Regions from separate parts of the Homo sapiens genome. Here region 2 is linked to region 1. The links come from fine-mapping of genetic effects on gene expression. Tissue or cell type: fibroblasts. Region 1 holds a variant in brackets; the other region holds the start of a gene. All regions are shown on one strand. Distances are from middle to middle.

Region 1 (5,269 bases):
CTCCAAATGCAGGTGCTTCCATTGGAGCTAGGTCGGAGGCTGCTTTATATGACGAACTCCAGAAATGGATGCCAGAATACGGAGGCCAAACGTTCTGAGTCCTGGTAAGGACAGTCGCTCTGGGGGTCCTCATTTTACTGCAGTTCCTGCACGCCAGTGAAAGAGAGGAGATAGACCCTGGAAGGCAGAGCTGCAGATGCTCATCATCAGGTCAATTCTGGAGCTACAGTTTTGTTTCTGACTGGATAGGGATGCACCAGTGACTGTCACATCAAGCAGTCCTTTTATTCTCTCTCCTTTAGTATCGATTTTAAAGGGCATTAGGCACTATGGTTCCAGAGTTTCTTGGGGAAAACTTGCAGATTCTTATTAATTGGTTCTGCAATACTTAAATAAATTATTTTACAATTATAAGTTTTCAGATTATAACATTTGTATTAATTTTTACTGATTTTCCAAGATACTTCTTAGATTTACTATTTACGTAGCTTTATGTACATTCTCTGTAAAAATAGACCTCTAAATATGAGGCTTTACATGAAATTTGTACACACATACACACTAATGTTAGCTCCTTAAATTGCTGCACTAAGGTGCTGGTTAGTAGAGATGGACGGAGCCTCTCGCGTTTTGCTCTCAGATGTGTTAAAGGCGCACGTGTACCTGCTCTCAGCGGCAGTGCGGCCTCCCCATCTGCTGGGTGCCCATGGCCCTCCCTGCAGCCTCAGTGATGACCTCGTCTGCCAGGGACACAGGTTTTCATCATTTACAGGCTCTTATGTGCTAGTTTTGTTGGTAGCACGTTATTTAATGCATAAAGGCAGAATTCTTACAAGTTTTTTTTTTTAATGTGAACATAGATGCAGCACCGACTTTTTAAACTTGAAAAAACTGGTATAATGTTAACTTTTAAAAATAACATTTGGACACACTAGTAATTGATTTTTGTTTACAGATTGTTTTGTTTACAAATTGTTAGTCTTTGTTTCTATGAGATACTTTTAGTGTGACTTTTTAAATGTCTTAGAAATTAAAAGTTGTACAAAAAGTGATTTCATATTTGGTTTATAAGCATTTATATGTGGGGTTTATTTGTTCTTTTGTTTTTTCCATCTTAAATATTATCATGGCTAAAACTTAAGGGTATTTATAGTTTAATTCCATTTCAGTTTTATAGAGGGCAGTAATTATTCTGATGAATGTTGAATTAAGAAATGGATATTTTCTTTCTCTGTTGTGCAGTTATTGGTAGATCAATTTCTTATAACCCACAATGTAGCATCAATAATTGATAGCATGTATTTTATTTAATTACTTGAATTATTTAGACTTGATTTCTCTAATTTTTTCCATAAAAGGACTGAACAGCACCTACTTGTGGTCTGGACAGCTTAACCCAGAGTTCCTGGAAGAATAAATGCTGTTAGCATCTGGTTAATTTACTGGCAGACAGAAGCCTACTTACAGTGGCTTTCAACTTTTTGACCACAGTAAGAAATAACCCATTACACACACACACACACACACACTCTCTCTCTCTCTCTCTCTCTCTCTCTGTCTCTCAGATACGTATAAGCAAAAATTTAACAAGACAGTACTTGTTTTTCCTAAGTGTGCATGCTGGCATCTTCTGTTTTATTATTTTTAAAAATACTAGACACAGACACTAAGTTACTTTGTGGCCTCCTAATAGATGGCAGACTTCAGTTTGAAAAGCATCCCTTTGGAATGTGGTTTAAAAGAAGAAATAATACAAAGACCTTTTTGGAGTTTTTTTTTTTTTTGGTTTTTGAATATTGTTTAGGTAAAAATTATTGCTGCAAACACAACTGAAGCAAAAGTACTGTGTACGCAAATTACTTGTTGCACTGTAGAAAATGTAATATCAGGAGAAGTTCCTAAAACTCACAAATATATACAAAATTTCAAAACTTGGTGATTGATCCATATGTCTTGAAGGAATATTAGGCAATAAACTTACCTTTTCAAGAGAAGTTATTTAACTTCCAATTCTGTGTTCTTTAATTAGGAAAAAATTTTTTCAAGGTTAACTATAATCAAATAGGAACTTCACACAAAACCTCATTATTCTTGGATATGGATTTGGTGTTCTGCTGTTACTTCTAAAGGTGGTACAGAAGTCAAGTTTATGAGCCTGGATTATGAACAGCAGGGCGGCCCTGATGTGAGTGGTTGTGGAGGACTAGAGTGATGTAGAAGAATCTGTTGTGTCTGAGTGTGAGGAGGTGGAGAGTCACGTGTGGGCTATGGGTCTGAGAACTGAAGTTTTAACAGTTACTAAAACTGTTTTGTGGCTGTTGTAATGTCTTCTCCTTTCCTTTCCTTTGAAAAGCTGTTACTGAATGAACGATGCCGCTTACAAACACTGACACTTCAGAACCAAGCATATTTGATACTGCTGTAGCTATTTATATTGATTCTGCAACTTCTCTTTAACAGCATCTTGAAGTCATCCACAGTTGTTCTATATGGACTCCACAGTAGAGTCAGAGAACTAAGTGACAAGTGGAGCATCGTCCTCCTCCTGCTCACTTCCTCCTCGCCACCTCTCTGGCCTGGCTATCCTTCAGTCTGAAGAGTGATTCACTTTTTCTTTTCTTTTTAGTCTTTACTGTGGAATCTCATCAAAGACTTGGAAGCA[G/A]GGGTGGTGAGAGGGGCCTGGGGCGTGGTGTGGAGGGTCGAGTTCTTTGTCGTCCCACAGTCACCCCCAGGACCACCTTGCGAAGCCGAAAATACACATCTGCATTTTACCGACAAGGAACGCCACTGAGAAAGCTGCAGACATTTGCCTGGGGTCACGCTTACAGTGGGCAGATGAACTGGATGTAAATACAGGCCAGTACAACCGCAGTCTCATTTTTTCTTTGTTTTAGGTTTTCAGTTTCTTGTTCATTCATGTACCTTACAGTTCTATTATCTGGTTGATAAAGATTCATGACAGGTATCCTCATTCTAGATTATAACCTTTATTCTTATCAAATGCCTCCAGTCCCACAATTCGCTAAGAATTCTCTTTCTGGACTTGATAGTGATTTAATGATTCCCCCCGCCCATGGAATGGTAGGCTCCTAATTAAGTGGATTTAAAGGCAAAAAGGGATGTGTGAGAAGGCACAAGAAGTGGCTTCATCTTGCAAGGTGACTGTCAGACAAGTGGGTTCCAACCTGTTAAAATAAGGGAGGAATGGCCACATCCCGTAGGGACTGCTGTAGCTGACCAGGAAGACACAATGAGGGCAGCAGACAGGGCTCTCCCTGTCCGCTGAGTCCTCCCATGAACTCATGTTTCCAAAGGCCCCACTCTTTCTTGGTCAGTGTCCCAGTTTTTATAGAAGAGACCTGATGAGGCTGTGGAGTAATTGTATAAAAGCTTGCACTGTTTTCCTGACTTGACCTGACAATGTGGCGTTATCTTCAAATTGTCCAGAGAAGTAGCTACTTCATTCAGGTCCTTTTTAGCGTTCTGTGGTTGCAACTTGGTCTCGCAAGCTTTCGATGGGCGCGCCATTCCATGGCCACTTTTCAGTAAGAAAATTGCCTGATTTTCTGTTAACTGTCACAGGCTGCCCTGGACCATTCCTCAGAACTCATGGGATTTTCGCGACCCTCATCCTCAGTGAAGTTAGATGACCATTCCTGCCTTTCATCCCACCGATTTTCCTAAGTATCTGTTGCCTGCAACTAACACTAGTTCCTGTGTCAGTAAAGTACTGCACTTGGTTGCAAAGAATAGAGATGGACTCTGCCAACATAGGCACGGAAGGTTTACGGGGTGGATGGCATGGCTCACAGATGTGATGAGAAAGCCCCGGAAGAAGTGTTGGGCACAGCCTTAGGCACAACCTTTCCTGGGCTCTTCCCATCACTGAATGATCCATGTATCTCCGGGACTCTCCTTCTAGATCCAAAGTTTAGGGCGGCGGAATCGGACTGCTCTGGCCTTTGACACGTGCCTGTGCTTTGCCTGTCAACGCTATGGGGAGAGAGATGTCAGCTTACAGAAAATTGAGGTTCTGTGATTCAGTTTCCCTCTGCTCTCTTAGAATAAAAGTGCTTACTCATTGTTTAAAGCATTCTCCAAATTAGTCTGCAAATTTTTTGATAGTATACATCCTTAAAAAATGAGCACATCCCAATATATGCATATTTATTCATAAATGATACATACATATGTAGCTATATAATGTGTACATCACAAAACATAGGAGAGTATTTTTTCTAAGGGATGAGATAAGAATAAATAGAAATTTTGGCATTTCTTCTCACATTAGATGCTGGGTTATTCTGAGCCCATGCCATGTGCACACCCACTTGGCCTCTTCCTCTTAGGCCTACACCCTGCCCTTTCCTTGCCCCTTGTAGTTACTGTGGCTGGAGTGATGAGCGCCACTCCCAAGCATGGCCTGGAACAATGTCCTCCTGCCCCTCCACCAGCAGTGACAGGATTCACTGGGGACTCGGGGGCAAAGGAGACTGTGTCACAAGACAAAAGGAGCCAGGGTCACACATGGTGTACCCTCGCCCTGCCTCACCCATGGCTGACATGGGTTGGACACCTCAGAAATCATGTGTCTTCAGCGAGCCACTGAGAGTTGGGGCTTTATCTGTTACTCGGCTAGGGGTAACCTAACCGATGAGACTGTAACTGGTTACTGTAAATAACCAAGCTCCCAGTAATAGTAAACCAGTGACAAAAACAATTCTTATCCAAAAAGGTTCACTTTTTTTTAAAATGTGTGAACTAAAACAGTCTTTATTGCTCTAAGACATTAAAATTTGCACTTTTTTGATGTTGAATACCACTGAATATTTTATTTTTATATTTTATTACACAGAAATACAGCAATTATTACAAAACGAGTATTAGGAATGGCAAAGGCTTTAGGACAGACTATTAGCGGAAAACATTTGGAACTTAAGGAGTGTTTTACATTTGGAACTTACTTTAAGGAGTGTCGTTCAGACACTAGCTATATCTTAACCTCAATTTTTAGAAGTAAGCAAGCTCTCATTTTTTGCTATTCATATTTGAAGTGATTAAACTCATAAATTTGAAATTTACTTTTTAGAGACCAAAGATTAAAATTAGGTGGGATGTCAGCTTTTAAAATATACTAAGATTTCCTACAACTACCAATAGCTTATTTCCCTGGGAAACAGATTACATTGTAGTACTTAACCCAGAACTCATGCAGTTCATCCAAAATGATGGTAAACTTTTTTCCTCAGAATTACCTAACTTTCCTTGA
Region 2 (5,269 bases), 210 kb before region 1:
TTAGGTTTCAATTTGCATGTCCTGGGTATTGTTGAGATGAAACATATTTTTAAATGTTTATTGCCAGCCATGTTCTTCTGATATGAAATGAAACTTCATATCCACACAGCATATCTTGGTGGCCAGGAGGTGTCATCATCACATTTTAAGAACTCTGTGTCTTTTCTCCAAAACTTGTTCTAACTGCAGCCTTCCCCCCCTTTGGTGATGCAACTGTCCTTCTGGCTGCTAAGGCAGATGCCTTGGAGCCCTCCCTGTCTTTCTCTTTTTCTGACCACATCCCCATGTGATAGGAAATCCTGATAGGAAATCCTCCTTTCAAAATGCATTCAGAAACCGACCGCCTCTCACCTCCTCTGCTGCCTCCACCCTGGTCCAGGTCACTAGGCTCTGAATTTCTGCAATAAGTCTTCCTCATTTGCTGTCCAGGCCCTGAGCAGCAGTCAGATCACATCACACCTGTCAATAACCCACAGTGGCTCCTAACCTCTCCCAGAATAAAAGCCAAAGCCGTTACAATGGCCCATGTGGTCTTATACAACAGCGTTTAGGGATGTGGGAAAGAGGGTGTTGGCTGGGGTGATGGAGGTGACCAGGTCACCTATCTTCAGCTGGGCTGGGGCTTATGATGCAGTGGCCAGTGGCCATTGAGGGTCCCTAGGGTCCGTAAGAAAGGGCAAGTCCTAATGTACAAGCACTTTCCTATAGTTTTGTATTTTTCAATGTCCCACTGGCTAGAGCAGGTCACCCAGCCAGGCTGATTCCAGGGCTGGAAAGTAGAGTCCATTTCTTGCTGGGAGGAAGGACAAAGCCAGATGGCAGAGGGTGAGCGTATAGGGAGTGGTGAGTACGTGGCCATTGTTGAAGTTGACTACCCTGGGTTAAGTGTTACAAGTACCAGTGGTGGGTAAACCTCTAGGGATGATTGCATAAAAGAAAATCAAAAGGTCTAGATGGTTGGAGTATTGCATTAAAAAGATGAGGAATACTACATGCATTCACTTTCTGGAATCTGTGTTTAAATGCCATACACTTTAAAATCTAATCTGCTTGCCCTCTGATTTGGAGAGAATTAACCCAGAAATTATCCAGGTTCTTTAGGGCTCCAAGACATTCTAAAAAATAAAGGTGAACGTTGAATTTAACCAGTTGACAGTTGTTCTTGGATTATGATCAATCAGCCTGTGGCAGCAGGGCACATGCTGAGAACAAGCCTCAGGTTCTCTAAGTTCTCCCACCACCACAATGTTCAGCTATAGTGAACTCATAGAAACCGTGTGTCGGGGCCTCCAACTTCGCCAAGCACCATAAGAAGTTTGAGTTGTGAAAAAATTTTCTCTACTCAAAATTGTGAAGAGAAACGGCAAGGTTTAAATTACCACATATTTGTCTTTGAAGAACTTTACAACAACTTCATTGACTGTTAAATTTAGATTCATAAAAATCTAAACAACGGCCGGGCGCGGTGGCTCAGGCCTGTAATCCCAGCACTTTGGGAGGACGAGGTGGGCGGATCACCTGAGGTCAGGAGTTCAAGAACAGCTTGGCCAACGTGGTGAAACCCCGTCTCTACTAAAAATACAAAAATTAGCTGGGCGTGGTGGCGGGCGCCTGTAATCCCAGCTACTCGGGAGGCTGAGGCAGGAGAATCACTTGAACCCAAGAGGCAGAGGTTGTTGTGAGCAGAGATCGCCATTGCACTCCAGCCTGGGCGACAAGAGTGAAACTCTGTCTCAAAAAAAAAAAAAACAAAAACAAAAACTAAATGACATTTGAAAGCAATTTGTAGATTTTCACACTTCCTAAGAATTCTCAAAGATGCCAAAAACAAAAATCGCAGCCACTAGCAATTTAAATGACTTCCTCGTAGCCAAATAAATCCTAAGGTAAAATTATAAACATTCCCTTAAATTCAAATTTTATAACAAAAAGAAAGATAATAGGGAACGGAGGGTGAATTATTGTGTTTGATATATTTGGCGGTGAAAAATACATATATTACGTGCTGTTTAGGGTCCACTGAGAGTCATAAAACTGACCCTAGTGACCGAGCTACCGGAAGGACTTGGCAAGGGTCTAGCGAGCTCGGTTATCTGCGTTTTCCAGGTGGGGCAGCCCAAGACCCTTCTCAGACCCAGAGAAGCTGGGTTTCCGCCCAAAGCCCGGCCCCAAACCACCGATTTCCGACCTTTCAACCTACTTTGGCAGAGCAAGAGTTTCCGCGGGAGACTCCCTGCTTCCCTCTGCCCAGGTCCCCTGAGGCCGAGTGCGGTACTGAGTGCTGAGTAAGGGGTGCCGAGTGCCAAGCACTGAGTAACTGGGGGAGGGGAACCATGCAGCTGTCATAAATAATTAGCTCCTGTGAGGAACAGGAACTCCGAGACTGCGGCCGGGCCAGGTGGGCAGAGGTCGCAGCGCCCTCGCCGCGTTCCCCGTCCCCATCCGACGCCAGGACAGCGCCTCCTTAACTGGGGTAGCCCCTGAGAGCGTGGGCGGAGCCCCGCCCCGCGACCTCAAGGCCCCGCCCCCTCAGCGCCTCCCGGCCCAGCAGCTCGGAAGACCGCGAGGCGCGCTTTTCTGACGCATCGGCGCCTTTCGTCTGACGTATGCCTGCACCGCCCCCTCCCCTCCCTGCCCCGCCCCCGCCCCGCCCCCGACTGCGCGGCGCCCGCCCTCCCTTAGTCAGAGCTGCTCGTCTGAGGCTGCTGAGGCGACGGCCGGTGTCGTGGTCGCGGTACCTGTTCCAACACGGCTCGCGGGCCCGTGCCGGCTCCGGTCCCCGGCGCGGCTGTCCGAGCCCCTGCGGCGGGCGGACGATGGTGTGGCGGAGCACGCGGACGCGGGCGGCGCGGCGGCGGGCATGAAGGAGGATGGAAGGGCAGGACGAGGTGTCGGCGCGGGAGCAGCACTTCCACAGCCAAGTGCGGGAGTCCACGGTGCGTGGGGACCGAGGCAGCCCTGACAGTCCCGCGTGCCCGCCCGGGCCCTCCGTCCCCGCCCCCGGGCCCCCGGTCCCCGGACCCCTCACCTCCGGGCCTCGCCTCGCGCCTCCCGCCCCGGCCTCTGCCGCTCTCCCTCCCCACCCCTCCTCTCCCCTCCCCTCCCCTTCCCTCCCCACCTCTCCTCTCCCCTCCCCTCCCCTTCGCTTCCTCTGCCTGCCCCCCCGCTCCGCTCTTGCCTCCCCTGCCCCCTCGCGCTCCCTCCGTTCGAGCCCCGACCCCGCCCCCGCCCCGCGGCCTCGGTGCTGCCCTTCCCTTCCCGCGGGGAGGGCTGCGGTGCGCGCCGCGCTCTGGGACCCCAGGGGCTTCCTCTCTGGGCGGGTGTGCGGCTCGCGCCTCGGGGTGTGGACGGCGGCCCCGCCAGTGCGCGCCCCCGCGCTCCGCCGCCAGGCCAGGTAGGCAGGTGGATGCGCAGGCGTCCCGGAGAGCCTGGGTGGGCCCGGCGGGTCCGGGAAGGGCCGGGCTGCGCGGAGCCCGCCCGCCTCTCGCGTTTGGACCCGGCCGGTTACCTTGTCCCGGTCAACACCTCCTGCCCTCCTGGCGCCTCACGTTTCCATCCCTCTTTCATCTCCCCCAGCCCCCACGTGGGTTGAGTTCGAAACCTTACCGTTTGGGATGAGAATATTGGTTATTTTTGGGAGTGAGGACCTCAGCAAAAGTCCATTTTGCTATGGAAGCAACTTCTTAGGGAAGCAGCTTCTTTTTTGGCCCATGTTCCATGTGTGCTGTTGGCAGGAGTCAGGAAGCGGACTTGACCTTGGAAAGTCTACTTTGATGTTTTTATCTTTTCATGATGCTCTAGAATGTATTGTAATTGGGTTTATCTGTGTTTTCATAACTGTTGTAAAATATGTCAATTTTTTATGTTTATATTTACGCCTCTCCTAAGTTGTCTACGATTCAGTCACACTTGGTTTGAGGTGAAAAAATTCTGCTTTAGAATTATCTAATTTGTGTACTCACTGATCTTGAAAATTGAGAATCACTTTGGAAGTCATACTTTGAATAAAGAGGACATATAAAGTCTGAGCTGGTGGAATTTGAGTTAGTGGAATTTGGTACACATTTAGTTGTAATTTTTATAATTGAAGCTAAAATACACAGAGATAAGTTCATGTAATCATACATGTACCCTTCAGATCATTTCATACTAAACACGCCTGTGTACTCCTGAATCCACCAGGAGTTTGAGACTGGTCAGCCTGGGCAACATAGTGAATCCCCATCTCTACCATTATAAAAAAATAAATAAATAAACACAATTTTACTAGGATCCCAGAGACTGATTCCTTTCCCTCTTCCAATTACTTTCTCCTCCACCAAGGGTAAACGTTGCCCTGGCTTCTAATATCATAGATTAGTTTTTGCTTAGTTTTGAACTTTATGTAAATGGAATCTTACCGTATATACTCTTCTGTGTCCAGTTTCTTGTACAATGTTTGTGAAATTTCTCCATGTTGTATGTGGTTATAATTCATTCTCGGTGCAGTAGTTGTGTGACTATAGCACAATTTATTTTTCATTTTACTGTTGATGGGCACTTCAGTAGTTTCTAGGTTTTGGCTATGAATATATATATGTGTATATATATGTGTATGTATATATGTGTGTGTGTGTGTGTGTGTGTGTGTATATATATATATATATATATATTTTTTTTTTTTTTTTTTTTTTGTGATGGAGTCTCGCTCTGTCTCCCAGGCTGGAGTGCAGTGGCACAATCTCGGCTCACTGCAACCTCTGCCTCCGGGATTCAAGTGATTCTCCTACCTCAGCCTCCTGAATAGCTGGGATTACAGGCACACACCACCACACCCAGCTAATTTTTCTATTTTTATTAGAGACGGGGTTTCTCCATGCTGGCCAGGCTGGCCTTGAACTCCTGACCTCAGGTGATCCACCTGCCTTGGCCTCCCAAAGTGCTGGGATTACAGGCATGAGCCACCACGCCGGGCTGGCTATGAACTTTTTGTACATAGCTTTTGGTGGACATGTTTGTGCATTTCTGTTGGGGATAGCCCTAGGAATGGAATCCCTAGGTTAAAGAGTGTGCATTTGTTCATCTTTAGTAGATACTTTAAAACAATTTTCCAAAGTGGTTGTACCAGTGTACACTTCCGCCAGTACTGACAGTCTCAGAGGTGTGGTTGTTACTCATCTTTATCAATACTTGATATTTTCTGTCCTTTTTAATTTTAGTCATTCTAGCAAGTGTGTTATAGTGTTCATCATACAAATAATTTTAATTTGCATTTTCCTGATAACTAATG

Which allele goes with the higher level. Alleles are on the strand shown, and positions count from the first base shown. SD is a standard deviation of normalised expression in the study named.
In carriers of allele A in region 1, the expression in fibroblasts of the gene that starts at base 2,681 in region 2 tends to be lower than with G alone (small effect, 0.22 SD a copy in GTEx).

Evidence for each region. PIP is the estimated chance that this variant, and not a neighbour inherited with it, causes the effect.
Region 2: it holds the start of LMBR1, and the variant in region 1 is fine-mapped to the expression of LMBR1 in fibroblasts (GTEx, PIP above 0.99). The same link has a PIP of 0.9 or more in T cells.

The regions. Positions count from the first base shown.
Region 1 is chr7:156,676,664-156,681,932 of GRCh38, reverse strand. RNF32 (ring finger protein 32) reads right to left here. Exons shown (of 9, transcript NM_030936.4): 9 at 4,803-5,269. LMBR1 (limb development membrane protein 1) reads left to right here. Exons shown (of 17, transcript NM_022458.4): 17 at 1-4,142. Among named protein-coding and RNA genes, the nearest start is that of RNF32-AS1, 19 kb to the right of the region's middle. The variant G/A (reference allele first, on the strand shown) is at 2,663.
Region 2 is chr7:156,890,595-156,895,863 of GRCh38, reverse strand. It overlaps LMBR1 (limb development membrane protein 1), which reads left to right and starts at 2,681. Exons shown (of 17, transcript NM_022458.4): 1 at 2,681-2,936. The coding sequence starts at 2,871. It overlaps LOC102723795 (a long non-coding RNA gene), which reads right to left and starts at 2,466. Exons shown (of 4, transcript XR_928253.3): 1 at 2,201-2,466; 2 at 352-432. RefSeq lists an enhancer at 78-157 and silencers at 2,460-3,039, 3,090-3,589.